Regions from separate parts of the Homo sapiens genome. Here region 1 is linked to region 2. The links come from fine-mapping of genetic effects on gene expression. Tissue or cell type: blood mononuclear cells. Region 2 holds a variant in brackets; the other region holds the start of a gene. All regions are shown on one strand. Distances are from middle to middle.

Region 1 (8,167 bases), 32 kb after region 2:
GTGGAACAGGTCTCGGTAGAGGCCGTAATACTCAGCCAGACGCTGCTTGTGGTAGGGGCCACAGGTCCTCTCCCACTCGGCCCGCACGGCATCCAGCGGGACACTGGCTAGACAGGAATAAGGCCAGTTGGGATACGGGGGTGGGGGGGGCAGGGACACACCCTGTACCCCAACTCTGGGATGGCCCCTCCCCTGAGAAGGCTTACCTGTGCGGAGGCGGGCAGCCCGCTCCTCTTCCACATTGGCCCGAAGCTCCTGGATGGCCTGTTTCCGTTCCAGTAGCTGTTGGGTCCGGGAGACTTTGGGTGGAGGCAGCCCAATATCAATCTTCTCTTTGGGATCTGGAGTGGGAAGATGTGTGGGAAAAACAGGGTCATGACTCACTGCAGCCTTAACCTCCCCAACTCAGTCTCCTGAGTAGCTGGGGCTACAAGTGTACACCATCTCATCTGGCTAATTTTTGTATTTTTTGTAGAGACAGGGTTTTGCCACATTGCCCAGGCTGGTATGAACTCTTGGGCTCAAGTGATCTGCCTGCCTCAGCCTCCCACAGTGTTGGGATTACAGTAGTGTGAGCCACTGCGCCCAGCCATGGTAGCTAATTTAAAAAATCTGAGAGATGGGATCTCATTATGTTGCTCAGGCTGGTCTCAAAACTCCTGGTCTCAAGTGATCCTCCTGCCTCAGCCTCCTAAGTAGCTGGGATTATAGGCGCAAGCCACTGCACCCAGTGAGGGGGCGGGCACATCTTCTTGGTTAAACTGCCTGTCCCTACCTAGTCCTCTCATTCTGTGCTTCAAGCTCTGCTGCTCAAGCTTTCCCTGTGATTCACAGAATTAAAACATACTGTGCAGTCTACTTCCCAGACCTGAATAGGATGTAACTGGGAAGCAAATCAGATACAACTTGAGGTTGTGTTTTTCTTTGAGACAGAATCTCACTCTCTCGCCCAGGCTGGAGTGCAGTGGCGCGATCTCGGCACACTGCAACCTCTGCCTCCCGGGTTCAAGCAATTCTCCTGTCTCAGCCTTCTGAGTAGCTGGGATTACAGGCGCCTGCCACCATGCCCGACTAATTTTTTTTGTATTTTTAGTAGAGACGGGGTTTCACCATGTTGGCTAGGCTGGAGGCTGTGTTTTTCTGATCCCCAAACCAGGTCACAGTTTTGTCTAGGTCATGGGAAACTGAAGTCAATGGTCCTTCCAATTATAGTTGAGATCACCTCCAAGCCTGTTCACAGGTGGCTATGAACACCCAGCTGTCCTAGGTAGAGTGAATGACTGATGCTAGAAGGACTTATAGAAGTGCTTCTCGGCCAGGTGCTATGGCTCACGCCTGTAATCCCAACACTTTGGGAGGCTGAGGCAGGGGGATCACTTGAGGTCAGGAGTTTCAGACCAGCTTGGGCAATATGGTGAAACCCCATCTCTACTAAAAATACAAAAATTAGCTGGGCGTGGTGGCGCATGCCTGTAGTGTCAGCTACTTTGGAGGCAGAAGCAGGAAAATCGCTTGAACCCAGGAGGCAGAGGTTGCAGTGAGTCATCGCACCACTGCACTCCAGCCTGGGCAACAGAGCGAGCCTCTGCCTTAAAACAAAACAAAACAAAATAATAATAACGAAAACATACTGAGCCCTCATCAGAGATGGCATTAGGCAAAAATGCCAATGAATTGCCTCTTTTAATCCTCACAGCAATTTTGTAGCAAAGACACAATTATTTTATTTTACAGTTGAAACAAGCTCAAGGACATTATCCGAGAGGCTGAGCTAGGATTTAAATCGGGCTATTTAGATTCCACGCTTGTGCCTTTAACCACCACAAAACTGCCTCTATAAATGCTAAAGAAAAGAAAAGAAAAGAAAAGCATATACTCCATAAATTGTAAGTTCCTTAAAGGTTGGGGTCTTTTTTTTTTTTTCTTTTTGAGACGGAGTTTCGCTCTTGTTGCCCAGGCTGGTGTGCAATGGCGCGATCTCGGCTCACCGCAACCTCTGCCTCCTGGGTTCAAGCGATTCTCCTGCCTCAGAGGCCTCCCGAGTAGCTGGGATTACAGGCATGCGACACCACGCCCAGTTAATTTTGTATTTTTAGCAGACACGGGGTTTCTCCATGTTGGTCAGGCTGGTCTCGAACTCCCGACCTCAGGTGATCCGCCCGCCTAGGCCTCCCAAAGTGCTGGGATTACAGGCGTGAGCCACCGCGCCCGGCCAGGTTGGGTTCTTTTTTGAGTCACCCTGCCCAGGCCTTTAATTTCATTCAGCAAAGTATTGCACATGTACATCCTTGCACTGTTCGGGTGCAAGGATCCAATGGAGGGCAAGACAAGCAGGATCCCTGTCAACAGGGCGCTTACAATCTGGGGAGAGGCAGCGCACAGTCAGAATGCAGTGTGGCCAGAGTTACCTACAGAGTATTTGAGGCGCACAGAACGGCATCCCAATCCGGAAAGTCAGGTGGTCAAGATTTTAGGAGCAAATATTTTAGGAGCTGGAACTCTAATAGTAGGGGGAGCGAATTTTCCAAGAATGAGGTGCAGAAGGTGTGAAAAATCCTGGGGTGATTAAGCTGCCGATAGCGCACACAGGTCTGCAGGCAGGCCCTCCCAGCGTCCCCAGCATCCACAAGGGCGCCGGCAAGGCTCGCCCAGCGCCCGGGGAAAACGCCGGCGGGTCCCGAGTTCCCCGGGCGGTGGCTGCAGCCCCTGCTCCAGTCGCCCCGCACCTGTCTTCTCCCCGAAATACTCTCGGTAGGTCCGCCACCAGTGCGGGGCCTGCGCCTCCTGCTCTGCTCGGCGCCGGTAGCGGTCGAAGCTCCGGTACTTCTCCAGCCGCTCCAGGTTGCTCAAGTCGATGTCACTGTTGGGCATCGGCCCCAGCGGGGGTGTCCGGCGGCCCAGGACGGCTGCGGGCAGAGAGAAGACGTAAGGCCGGCGCCCCACAGCTCGGGCGACAGCCCCCCCCCCCCCCCCCGCAGAGCTGCCCACCCCTCACCCGAGGTGCTGAAGCCCCGCCATCTCCGACACTCGCACAGCGCGGCTCGCCACCAGGGCGCCGCCATCTTCCCTCCGGCCTGCGACACTGCGGCCGCCACTAGGACCCGGGCACAGGTGGCCAGCGCGGTGCCTGAGCGCACCACAGCAGGCCCCGCCCCTAGGCCCGCCCCCGGGCCCGCGCTGCGGAGCAGGCCTCAGACGCCTGTCCCGGAGGCCCCTGCACCGTCTGCCTCGGGCGCAGGTGGAAGGTGGCCGCGGTCTGTAGACGCCCGGCTCCGGAAGTGCCCGTTGGACGGCGGGGCGGAGCCGAGAGCAGTCATATGCTCGCCCATGGCTGGCCACCAGGGGGCGGCACAGACCGGGGTCGGCCGCCGGGGCCCTCCTCCAACCCCTGGACGCTGCGTCCTGATTTCCCCAGGGACGCAGGCCTGGTTGGGAGAAGGGGTGCGAGCTCCGATTCCGGACTCTGCTTGGGTTTAAAACCCAGATTGAGGGCTGGGCGCGGTGGCTCACGCCGGGAATCCCAGCACTTTGGGAGGCCAAGGCGGGTGGATCACGAAGTCAGGAGATCGAGACCATCCTGGCCAACACGGTGAAAACCCGTCTCTACTCAAAATACAAAAATTAGCCGGGCGTGGCATACGCCTGTAATCCCAGCTACTCGGGAGGCTGAGGGAGGAGACTCGCTTGAACCTGGGAGGCAGAGGCGGAGGCTGCAGTGAGCCGAGATCGCGCCACTGCACTCCAGCATGGGCGACAAAAGTGAAAACTCTATTTCAATAATAATAATAATAATAAAATAATAGTAATAAAAACCCAGATTGTGGCTGGGCGCGGTGGCTCATACCTGTAATCCCAGCACTTTGGGAGGCCGAGGTGGGCGGATCATCTGAGGTAATTAGTTTGAGACCAGCCCTACGAACATGGCAAAACCCTAAAGATACAAAAATTTTTGTATCTCTACTAATGATACAAAAATTAGCCGGGCGTGGTGGCAGGCGCCTGTAATCCCAGCTACTCAGGAGGCTATGGCACAAGAATTAACTTGAACCCGGGAGGCAGAAGCTGCAGTGAGACGAGATTGCGCCACCACCTCGGTGCCAGAGTGAGACACCGTCTCAAAATGCCCCTCCCCCCCCCCAAAAAAAAACCAGATCGTGACCTTACTGTCTTCCTTGTGGTTTCCTCATTTGGGAAAAAGCAGGTTAACACTAGTGCTTACCTGACAGCTGTCAGGATGAAAAGATTACCCTCTGGAAAGCGCTCGCAGTGGTTTGTGTGTTAGCTCAACTATCTCCAACTTCTCATTATCCACACAAAGGCAGAAGTGACCTGGTTAAGTGCAGATGTGAATGTTTCTGGCAGGACTCAGGCTTGCCCTTGTGATCCAGTTCTACCATGGCAAAACTTGGTAGCCTGGGGAATCTGGGACCCTCCTTTGCCCCAGCCCTGGCCCTCCTGCCCTAAAAGGCAAGACTTTTCCATCGCACTTTGCCTCCAGGCCACGGGGCCTTTGTATACGCTGTGTCTTCTGCCTCTCACCTCCTCACTGCCCCACCTTGGCCTGGCCACCACCCAGCCCCAGGAGAGGGGTCTCTCCAGGAAGCCTGCTCTGACATCCCAGGCCAGGGCTGGTGGTGACCAGGCCAGTGGCTCTGGCACCAGCAGAAGCTTGACCCTCACAATCACTTTGAGATGGAATGAGAATGGAATGAGGGTCTCTCCATCCAGCAGGAAGTGGCCACACCTTCCACTGGTTTTCATAAACAGCAGCCAAACAGCTAAACCTTTCACAGTCATTTCTAATCCACCCAGCAGTGTGCACCTGCTACATGCTAAGTGTGGAGGGGAATACGTGGGGCAGTCACACCCAGTCCTGCTCGTAAGGAGTTGCTTATTGTGACATTCCATACTGCAGTTATGCAGTACAGGAGCATAACTGGATTGTGTGTTTACATCGTGGCTGTTTTACCTTGTCCTTTTTTTTTTTTTTTTTGAGATGGAGTTTCTGTCGCCCAGGCTGGAGTGTAGGGGCACGACCTCGACTCACTGCAACTTCCGCCTCCCAGGTTCAAGTGATTCTCCTGCCTCAGCCTCCCGAGTAGCTGGGATTACAGGCATGCACCACCACGCCTGGCTAATTTTTTGTATTTTTAGTAGAGACTTGGTTTCACCATATTGGCCAAGCTGGTCTCAAACTACTGACCTCAGGTGACCCACCCACCTCGGCCTCCCAAAGTGCTGGGATTACAGGTGTGAGCCACTGCACCCGGCCACCTTGTCCTTTTGTTTCTGAATCATTTTCTTCAGCCTCTAAACCCACCCGCTCTACCCCACGACCCTCCCAGCCCTCTCCAGATGAAGATGTATGGGGCCTTGGCAGTTGGCGTGGAAGCTGCTGGCCACCCAGGTGGCGGTGCATTCCTCCATTCTTGTCCTCTTGCTGTCCTAGAACCCTGATTGGCGCTTGCTTGGATATTAACAGTTTGAGAGAGGCTTCACGTGGATTCCCACGTGTACCAACTTGAAGCAAATAACGATGAATATCTTGAAACTAGAAGCAGTGGCTCTACCATTTTAAAAAAATATATGGGGGTCTCACTATGTTGCCCAGGCTGGTCTTGAACTCCTGGGCTCAAGCCATCCTCCCACCTTGGCCTCCTGATAGCAGCTACAGGTGTGTACCACTGCACCAGTTTTTTTTTTTTTTTTTTTTTTTTTTTTTGAGACAGAGTCTTGCTCTGTCGCCCAGGCTGGAGTGTAGTGGCCTGATCTCGGCTCACTGCAAGCTCCGCTTCCCAGGTTCATGCCATTTTCCTGCCTCAGCCTCCCAAGTAGCTGGGACTACAGGCGCCCGCCACCACGCCCGGCTAATTTTTTGTATTTTTAGTAGAGACGGGGTTTCACCGTGTTAGCCAGGATGGTCTCGATCTCCTGACCTCGTGATCCGCCCGCCTCGGCCTCCCAAAGTGCTGGGATTACAGGCGTGAGCCACTGCGCCCGGCACCTGCACCAGTATGTTTTACCCATTACATTCCACCAATATTTCTTTTTCTTTTTTTTCTTTTTTTTTTTTTTTAGACAAAATCTCACTCTGTCACCCAGGCTGAAGGGCAGTGACACAATCTCGGCTCACTGCAACCTCTCCCTCCTGGGTTCAAGCGATTCTCCTGCCTCAGCCTCCCAAGTAGCTGGGACTACAGGCCACACGCCACCACGCCCGGCTAATTTTTGTATTTTCAGTAGAGACGGGGTTTCACCACGTTGGTCAGGCTGGTCTCGAACTCCTGACCTCAGGTAATCCACCCACCTTGGCCTGCCAAAATGCTGGGATTACAGACGTGAGCCACCGCGCCCGGCCGCAATATTTCTCTCTCTAAAAGGAACTGAATGAAGCACTTGGGTTATGATCTTGTTTACAATTTTGAAGGAAAAAAAGAGCTGCAGCTACACAACACTCATTTCTGTACTCAGCCCTCTCCAGTGTCTGTGGCCTGGGAGAAGGCTGAAGGGGATAATTAGGATGCCTGCCACACCCTCATGGCGGTGACAGGAATGCTGAGTGCTTACACTGAGTAAAGTGCCATTATAACTGAGTGCCTGTGGAATGTCTCTGCTTGGCTGTCCCCCCGGCACTGTATACTCATCTGTGACACCACCCAGTCACCCAAGCCAGGAACCTGGGCGTCCTCAACACGTCTTCCTTTCTGATCCTCCATGACTGGCACTAGGCCCGAGGGCCACTTTTCTGTGGGCCCTCCCTGCCATGCCCGGTAGTCTTGCCCACAGTCCCTCCCCTGCACCATTGCCAGCTGCCTTCCCACACATCCTCTGTCCCACTCTTGCCCCCTCTGGTCCGGTCCCCACCCTGCAGACACAATGGGTTTTCTTTTGTTGTTGTTTTTTTTTTGAGACGGAGTCTTGCTCTCTCGCCTAGGCTGGAGTGCAGTGGTGCAATCTCGGCTCTCTGCAACCTGTGCCTCCCGGGTTCAAGCGATCCTCCTGCCTCAGCCTCCTAAGTAGCTGGGATTACAGGCACACACCACCATGCCCAGCTAGTTTTTTTGTATTTTTAGTAGAAACAGAGTTTCACCATGTTGGCCAGGCTGGTTTTGAACTCCTGATTTCAAGTGATCCACCCACCTTGGCCTCCCAAAGTGTTAGGACTACAGGCGTGAACCACCGTGCCTGGCCAATGGGTTTTCTAAAATACAAATATGGTTCAACCTTGTTTAAAATCTTCTAGTGAAGACCTGAAAATTTGCCCTCAGACAAATTTGCCCTGAAAAGTTGCACGTCTTTAACAAGATATGCAAAGCCCTCTCATTCTAACCTCTTCTCCCTACTCTGTCTTGAAGGCCATGCTCTCCCCCTGTGGGTCTCCCAGCACCGCCCTCCCCGATGTATGTGCTTGATCACCTGCAGGTCCTGCAGGTGGCTGCCTAGATACCAGCTGCCCCTGGGCCGACGTGCCCATCCTTAGACCCCCCCAGCTCTTTGCACAGGTCTGCCTCAGGACTGGTTGAGTCTCTTTTGTGGAGAATCAAATTTGAGACTTAACCAAGGCTTCCAATGGGGCATGTGATACTTCCCTCCTCAGTGTTGGTACCAGCCCCAGAAGCGCCTGAAAAGATCTTCCTCCCACACCAGCACCTACCAGGAGTGTAGCCTGCTCCTCTGGGAGGTAGGAGAGCGGGGTGGCTGACAGCGTGGAGCTTGGGGATTGGCCAGAGCAGAACTCAAATCCAGGCGCAGCTACTCACTGTCATTTCAGGCAGGTTATTTAATCTCCCCGGGCCTCAGTTTCTGCATGTTTGAAGCAGGGCTAATAGTACCCTTCTCCTGGCTGTGGTCCAGCTGCCAGGTGCCACCGCAGACCGCAGGTGCTGGAGGGGAGAGGCACGTGGCCAGAGGCGCCTGGTCCTGACCAATCTTATAGGCTGATCTTTTAATAAGAACATCTGCCTGTTCTTTGGGACTTGTCCAGCAAATAACAGGAAACATTTTCTAAGAAATAAGTATAAACTCCGATGAGCCATGGCAAAAGCAGTTTTTTTAAGCTTAGTCAAGTTGAAGCAGCGGGAGTGGAGGAGGATCAGAGAAACCTCTGTAGTTGTGATTGGTTCCTTGTCGCCTCCACTGCGTACCCGCTGAGCTGGGCTTTGGGCAG
Region 2 (8,152 bases):
CTCACCCTCCCGAGTAGCTGGGACTACAGGCACGTGCCACCACTCCCGGCTAATTTTTGTATTTTTTAGTAGAGACGGGGCTGGTCTCGAACTCCTGATCTCAAGTGATCCACCCACCTCAGCCTCCCAAAGTGCTGGGATTACAGGCATGAGCTACCACGCCTGGCTTGTTTAGGCATTTCTAAGCACAAGACACACCTAGGCTGGGCGGTATGGAAAGAGTGTTCTGGACTGGGTAACAGTGGGCAGCCCCCCCAGTACCCCTGTGCCTCAGTTTCTTCCTCTGTAAATGGTAGTGGGAGGGGAACGTTGAGACTAGATCGGTGGTTTTCTCATTTTTTTCTTTTTCACAGTTTCTTTTTTTAAAGGAGCCTTGAATCAAATAGGCAAATGCTTCTCTGATTAAGGTGTTGGCAGGGGTGCTGAGGGACCTCCCCCAGCCTTTCCCCAGCCCACCCCGCTCAGTGCACCTCCTCCTAGGTCTTCTCAGAGCATTGTTGGAAAAGTCACTGGGCTGGAGCAACATGCATTCACACACAGGCGTTCACCCAGGCAGACACTCACACACAGCACACAGACACACACGAAGACATACACACATGTATACAGATATACGCACATATACGCATACACACAAAACACATAGGCATGCAGACCACACACACACACTCACACACACACTCTCACACTCCAGGGTGACAAAGGAAATGCGAGATTGTAGCTAACACTCCAGGCTTCGGAGTCTGAAACTTGGGATCTGAAGAGCCAGCCCCTTGCTAGCTGTGCACCCAGGGGCCAGCCAATCCCTGGCTCTGAGCTGCAAAGCTGCAATACAGGGATATGGGATTAAAATGCTTGTTGCAGGCAGGGTACAGAACCCCGTCTCTACATTTTAAAATGTATTTTATTTATTTATTTATATTTTTTATTTATTTATTTATTTATTTTTTGAGACAGAGTCTCGCTGTTTTGCCCAGGCCGGACTGCAGTGGCGCTATCTCGGCTCACTGCAAGCTCCGCCTCCCAGGTTCATGCCATTCTCCTGCCTCAGCCTCCCGAGTAGCTGGGACTACAGGCGCCCACCACCGTGCCCGGCTAATTTTTTGTATTTTCAGTAGAGACAGGGTTTCACCGTGTTAGCCAAGGTGGTCTCGATCTCCTGACCTCGTGATCCGCCCGCCTCGGCCTCCCAAGGTGCTGGGATTACAGGCGTGAGCCACCGCGCCCAGCCAATGTATTTTATTTTATGTATTTATTTTTGAGACAGGGTCTCGCCCTGTCACCCAGGCTGGAGTATAGTGGCATGAACATGGCTCACTGCAGCCCCAACCTCCTGGGCTCAAGGGACCCTCCCATCTCAGCCTCCCAAGTAGCTGAGACCACAGGCGTGCACCACCATGCTGGCTTTTTGTTTTTGTTTGTTTTTTGAGACGGAGTCTCACTCTGTCTCCCAGGCTGGAGTGCAGTGGCACGATCTCGACTCACTGCAACCTCTGCCTGCTGGGTTCAAGTGATTCTCTGCCTCAGCCTCGCAAGTAGCTGGGATTACAGGCGCCTGCCACCACGCCCAGCTAATTTTTTTTGTATTTTTAGTAGAGACACGGTTTCACCATGTTGGCCACGCTGGTCTTGAACTCCTGACCTCGTGATCCACCCGTCTTGGCCTCCCAAAGTGCTGAGATTACAGACATGAGCTATCACGCCTGGCCAATTTTTTTTTTTTTTGAGACGGAGTTTCACTCTATCGCCCAGGCTGGAGTGCAGTGGCGCTATCTCAGCTCACTGCAAGCTCCGCCTCCCGGGTTCACGCCATTCTCCTGCCTCAGCCTCCCGAGTAGCTGGGACTACAGGCGCCCCCCACAGTGCCCGGCTAATTTTTTGTATTTTTAGTAGAGACAGGGTTTCACCATGTTAGCCAGGATGGTCTCGATCTCCTGACCTCGTGATCCGCCTGCCTCGGCCTCCCAAAGTGCTGGGATTACAGGCGTAAGCCACCGCGCCTGGCCCCAATTTTTTTTTTATTTTTGTTTTTTGTAGCGATGAGGTCTCACCATGTTGGCCATACTGATCTCAAACTCCTGGGCTTGAGTGATCCTCCCACCTCAGCCTCCCAAAGTGCTGGGATTACAGGTGTGAGCCATCATGCCCAGCCTCAATATTTTTTTAAAGAGATGTTTGTTTCCCAAACTTCCACGCAAGACTCTGGAGCTACAGGCCACTCTGCAGATGGCATGCTTGCTGAGTGGCTGTGTCTGTGGCCACAGGTGTGACTAGTCATGCCTGAATTCCACCAAGAAAGCACCAGGCCTGTCTAGCTCACATTCCAGGACATGCCAACACTTCCTGCAGGGTCAGAGACCAGAAGGTTCCCTGGCGAGGGGCGCCTGTGGGGTAGGGAGTGCCAAGTTGGGGGACAAGATGAGACAGCAGGTGGCCTGAGGGGTGGGAGCGGTCCTCTGCAAGGTAGGAGGCTTGTAGTAGGTGGTCCAAGGAGCATCCAAGGGGACAGCGGGGCAGCCTTCTCCACCAGCCCCTTCACTGCCGGGTGAGCTGGGGACCCATGGCTGCCAAGGGAACGATGTTGAAAACACAAAGCACCAGGGGCAAGGAGGCCCCGCCCGGAAAAACAACATCCTGGCTGCTAGAGCCCAGGCAGGCTCTATGGGAGGGGCTATTTTTAGCTGCTGAGGCTGCTGGGGCTGGACTTGTATGGCCTTGCTGTCTGGCTGCATAACTCACCCATTATCCCGCCTGACCTTGAGCTGGGCGTCTGTCTGAGAGGCCTCTCTGTCTGCCCTTGCCCTCGGCCACAGCCCCTCTCTGGGGTGCACCTGGGCCACACAGAACCCAGGCAGGAGTGAGCTGGCCTGGGCCTGGAAACACACTGGACTGTAGCCTCAGGGCGCCCCAGGCCTGGCTCAGGTTCTAGGGCAGCAGAGGGCACTGGGCCCTCCCAGAAGAGAGGCAGAGGCTCTCCTGGGGCACAGGTCACAGGTGTCCCCAGCATGGAGGGCAAGAAGATTCCAGAGGGGGACATAAGTCCTTTTATTTTTTGAGATGGAGTCTTGCTCTGTCGCCCAGGCTGGAGTGCAGTGGTATAATTGATCTCGGCTCACTGCAACCTCTGCCTTCCGGGTTCAAGTGATTCTCCTGCCTCAGGCCCCTGAGTAGCTGGGAGTACAGGCACCCACAACCATGCCCGGCTAATTTTTGTATTTTTAGTAGAGACGAGGGTTTCACCATGTTGCCTAGGCTGGTCTCGAACTCCTGACCTCAAGTGATCTGCCTGCCTTGGCCTCCCAAAGTGCTGGGATAACAGGCATGAGCCACCGCGCCCGGCCAGGACATAAGTTCTCTTATTGTAGATGTTCTGGGCTCCAGCCACACCCTGGGCCGGCTCTGTGGGCTGAGGGCTATGTGTGAAGGAAGCTCCAGGTCTCAAAACTCTCTTGCCCACGCCCAGGGGTCCTGCCCTGTTCCTGGAGGGGTGATGCCTGCATTTAATGCTGGGCACAAACAGTACAAACAGCAAAGGCAGGTCCAGAACTAGGCTGCGGCATGAAAGATAAAAATAGCTGGTGGGAGTCAGGCCATCCCAAGTAAACACTCAAGCAGCCAGGACGGCAGTGGGGCTGGAGAAGCCACCTCTGGCTGCCCGTGCTGGGAAAAAGGGAGTGGGGGTGCCCCAAAGGGCAGGTACCCTGTTCCAGCCCCCTTCTCCCAGGCCAGGGCTCCCTCTCAACAGGAATCCTGGGACGAGGGGCTCCGGCCCCTCTCCTGCCTGCCCACTCAGCCAGCTTACAAATGAGAGCGGTTCTGGGAATCCTTGGGTAGAGAGGATGGAAAAGGAGTCATTCATTCAACAAGTGTTTATTGAGCATCTACTACATGCCAGACACTATTCTAGAAACCTGGGAAAGGAGGGGTTAGGGTAGCTTGGAGCTGTCCCAGCTGTAGCTCTGTCTCCCAGAAG[T/C]GAGGTCTGCAGGGGAACAGGGTCTGGGGGTCCTCCTGCCTGGGAGAGGGAAGGCTGAGTGTATAAAAAGGTGGAAGCCTCTAGAAATGAGAAGGCTGGGTGTGTGGGACTCATGCTGGTGCCTTCCCAGACGAAGGAGAGGGCCCAGAGGAGGCAGCTTCCTGGAGCAGAGACGGCAGCAGGAGCGCCCGTGCCCGGCATCACCTCCTCTTCAGCACGGATATGCAGGACTTCTTGAGGGGCCCGATCTGCAAGTGGGCGTCCACACTCTCCAGGAAGAAGGCAGGCTTGAGTCTGTGGGTGAAGAGCCCCGCAAAGTGACTGTCCAGGCGGCTCTGGAAGGGGTCAATGGGGGAGGCCGGGATGCCACCCCGGCGGGGCCGGGAGGCCTTCAGCCTCCGCAGGAGGCTCATCTTGCCGTCCCGTACAGCATAGAAGGCCAAGGCACGGTCAGCGTATTCCAGGCAGACCCCAACCGTGGGCGAGAAGGGGTGGGGCAGGGGAGCCTCCAGCCCATGAAACCAGACGGAGAAGCTGCGTCCATTCCACTGCAGGCAGCAGGAGTGGGCGTTGCGGCCCAGCCGGCCGCGGTCGTAGGGCTCTTGTGGGGAGAAGTCTTCGGCCATGACCCCCATGCTGACCCAGCCCTCGATAATCTCCACCTCCCAGTAGTAGGTGCCTCGGTCCAGGGCACCCTCGCCCAGCACCTGCTCACAATGGGTGAAGCGGGTGGGCGACAAGGGGTAGTTGATAGGACACAGCACCCTCTTGACACCTTTGGTTCCAAACAGCTGCAGGAACTTGTCTGCTGTGTCGCTGTCCAAATCCACAATATAGGCAACTGATCCCGTGGACAGAAGAGAGAGGCAGGGCTCAGGGCCAGGCTCAGAGGGCACGGCCCCTCCCCAAGTACCCACCCCCCCAAAACACAGCCTCTCCCCTGCTTTCCAACCGGCACAACCCAGCCCCGCCGGGGACCACCCCAGGAGCTGCCCTAGCTCTCCCCACAAACTGGGGAGAGGAATCCTAACCCTTGTGTGCCAGGGCCCTGCTGGGACCAGCCCAGCAGCCCTGGGAGGGCCCAGTGTGAGTGGAGGGGGCACGGGCGTCCACTTACACTTGAGGAAATAGTCCCTGGGAGCTTCACTCTCCAAGAGGTTCGTACTCTCGAGGTCTTGGGGCTCAGCATCAGCTGTAGAAGAGGAGACAGTGGTGAGAACGCCCCCAGACTGCCCCCCTCTGAACCTGTGACTACAATCCCTACCCCCTTCACTTCCTCCCAGAGTCCAGAGCCACCAGGGAGCAAGCACCACCCAGATGTGGCACGCTGTGCTCACACACATGCCCGTTGCCTGTGTTCTGCCTCTTGCCCCATGTGCTTCCCGGGCCACAGCCCTCTGGAGCTAGAGGGTGGGCTAGGAGAAGCCCCCTCTACCCCAGGTCCAAGGGGCTGATTGATCCCCACAGGGTGGCAGCTCTAGTCACTGGCAGGATTTGGGCTCCTCCCTGTGCCAGGCACAATTTTCCTCCTCCACTTCTGGATGGGCGCCAGGCCTGGGGGCCTGTGCGAGAGGCTGGCAGAGGGTGAGTCATCGGGGGGGCGTGGGGCGGTGCCCACCTTCCGAGTCCAGCTTCTGTGGCCCATCCTCGTTGCCACCCGGCCCCCTCAGCTGCTCCCACTGGTTGACGCAGGCCACGGCCAGCATGTCTCTCACTGCACGGACAGCTTGGGATGATTTGGTGAAGCTGAGCTCCCTCGGGGGTCCAGGCCCAGGGCCACACCCATCCTCCAGGGCCAGCCTTAGTGCCAGCAGCTCCTGTGCCAGACAAATGCCCATTAAAGTGCTGCTGGCCATGGCTCCTCCTTGCTGGGGGTGGAGGCAGCTCTGCCAGGAAGTCATGCACCCACTGCCTCCTCCTCCCTCCACCCCACCTGTCCCAGCTTCTGTTCCTTCCGTGGCCCCCAGAGCGGCCTTCACCTGCAGGAAGCTGACTGAGTCAGCTTCAGGGACCTGGCTGAGATTCTGGCGGGCTCGGCTCAGGCGGCTGCGCTGTTCCTCCTGTCGCCGCAGGTCACCCTGGGAGCGGCCTAGCATGGCAGCTTCCCCCTCCTCGATGAAGCCCAGCACCTGGGTCTGGAAGCCCTGCAGGGCGGCCGCAGCATCTGCAAACAGCCGGCTCACCCTCTCCCGCTCTGCTACGGCTGCACTCTGCACAGGACGACAGTAGAGGGGGCAATGAGGGCAAAGAACCGTCCCGGACTGTACCCCCCTCCTTCCCTGACCCCGGCTTCCCACCGGCCCTCTTGAGGGGACAGAGGGGCCAGACTGAGCCTGTCCTGGATCTGGGCCAGGTCAGGGGACACTTGTGCTCAGTAGGTATGGGCATGGTTTGTTTGGAGTGGATTGTTCCATGCTGAGGGAGGGGTGTTTGACCTTGATGAGGGCCACTGTGCGCCTGGACTGTGCAATGCCAGCACCCAGCTCGTCCATGCGGTCCTCCACGGCGCTCAGGACTTTGGACTGCTCAGCCTGTGGACAACACCCTCCATGAGTGTGAGGTCTGGCAGAGGCCACAGCCCTACACTCGGGTCCCAGGCCTTGCCAGGGGAGAGAAGGGGGTGACTGGGGAGTGGTATCTGTGCATCAGGTGGGACTGGAGTGGCCACGATGTCCCATAATATGCCAGAGGTGCCTGCAGCCCAGGCTGGTGCCTTTCCTGAACGCCTGGGGGGCGTGCAGGCTGACTGGGTGTCTGCCTCGGGTCTCTGACAGGAGGCCTAGTACAGGGCCGTCCGCTGGTCTCAGTGTTGCTCAGATGAATTTGAGAACTTCCTCCGGCGGGGAAGAGGCAGAGAGTAAGCCAGTTAGGTTGGGAGGTGGGCGGCGGAGGGGTGACTGCACAAGGAGGCATTAAGCTGTCCTGAGGATCACTGTTCCCAAAGAGCCTGCATCCACAGTCCAGGCCTGGAAAAAAGGGGATTCCGGGCAAATCCCCTAGGTCTTATGAGTCACTGCTCCAGGCAGGAGAAACGGAAAATCCCTTGGCCAGAGGCGCCAAGACCGGGCTGGAGGCCAAAGGAAACTGGGGGCGGGAGGTAGAGGCCGCGGCTCACATGCTCCCACCACTGGCCCCCGGAACAGCTGGACAGAGAATCTGTGTGCCCGGTCGCCCTCTGCCGCCCTCCTGCCGCCTGCCACACCCATCGAAAGCTGCTGCCTCAGCCCAGGGCAAATCTGAGCTGAGACCGGCGTGACCCTCCGGGCGGGAGCAGCAGCCACGCTACCGGAACCCCGCGGGCCTAACCCGGCTCCCTCCCGCCTACACCCCCATAGACCCCGGCCCGGCTTCAGGTCCCCTGCCCGCTCTTCGCGTCCTTGTCCTGTTCTCACGTCCCTCCTTCCTCCCTTCCCATCTCCATCACCGCCAGCAGATGACCTTGTCAAGGCTGGAAGGGACCGCAAAGATCCTCAGGTTAGAGGAGGAGATTAAGACCCAACCCGGGAAGACTGGGGGGTCCAAGGTCCTCGGCCCGCTCGCGCGCGGTCGGTCACCAGCCCCGGCTCACCCGAGTGTGCCCCCGGAGCCCACCTCCTGAAGCGCGCGCTCCTGCTCCAGCGGCACCAGCTCGTGGCCGCGGTGCTCCTGTGCGGCGCAGGCCTCGCACAGACACACGCGCTCCGCGCGGCAGTAGCGCTCGAGCGGCCGTAGGTGGCGCGGGCACAGGCTCTCCTCTAGCCGGCGCAGCGGCGGCACCAGGCGGTGTCCGCGGAGGGCGGGGCTGCGCTCGTGCGGGCCCAGGTGCGCGGGGCAAAAGGAGGCGAGGCAGGAGAGGCAGGACAGCGCGGCGGGCAGGGCCGCGCCCTCGGGGCACGCGTCGCAGCGCACTGGCTCTTCGCCCGCGGGCCACGGCTCGGGAGCGCAGGGGGCCGACGGCTCCGGGACACTGGGCAGCGCGCTGGGTGCCGAGGGCTCCGGGGCCAGGGCAGGGGCCGGGCCGGGGCCGGACCCGGGGCCCGAGCCCTGGCGGAGCTGCAGCAGCTCGGACAGCGTGTGGTTCTTGCGGAGCTGAAGGCCGTCGGGGAAGGGCTCCTGGCACAGCGGGCAGCGGGCCGCGCCTCCGGGTCCGCCGGCTCCACTCGCGCCACGATGCGGCCAGAGCGCGCCCAGGCAGGCGAG

Evidence for each region. PIP is the estimated chance that this variant, and not a neighbour inherited with it, causes the effect.
Region 1: it holds the start of MRPL38, and the variant in region 2 is fine-mapped to the expression of MRPL38 in blood mononuclear cells (TOPMed, PIP above 0.99).

What each region holds. Positions count from the first base shown.
Region 1 is chr17:75,901,814-75,909,980 of GRCh38, forward strand. It overlaps MRPL38 (mitochondrial ribosomal protein L38), which reads right to left and starts at 3,071. Exons shown (of 9, transcript NM_032478.4): 1 at 2,996-3,071; 2 at 2,727-2,906; 3 at 207-341; 4 at 1-107. The coding sequence starts at 3,062. It overlaps FBF1 (Fas binding factor 1), which reads right to left. Exons shown (of 30, transcript NM_001319193.2): 30 at 7,761-8,167. RefSeq lists silencers at 2,867-2,916, 2,937-2,986, 2,997-3,476.
Region 2 is chr17:75,870,310-75,878,461 of GRCh38, forward strand. It overlaps TRIM47 (tripartite motif containing 47), which reads right to left. Exons shown (of 6, transcript NM_033452.3): 1 at 7,565-8,152; 2 at 6,409-6,504; 3 at 5,953-6,183; 4 at 5,592-5,790; 5 at 5,091-5,165; 6 at 3,855-4,814. The coding sequence ends at 4,174. Among named protein-coding and RNA genes, the nearest start is that of TRIM47, 4.2 kb to the right of the region's middle. RefSeq lists enhancers at 5,815-6,730, 5,851-5,920, 6,731-7,646, 7,647-8,152 and silencers at 7,407-7,586, 7,597-7,976, 8,107-8,152. The variant T/C (reference allele first, on the strand shown) is at 3,974.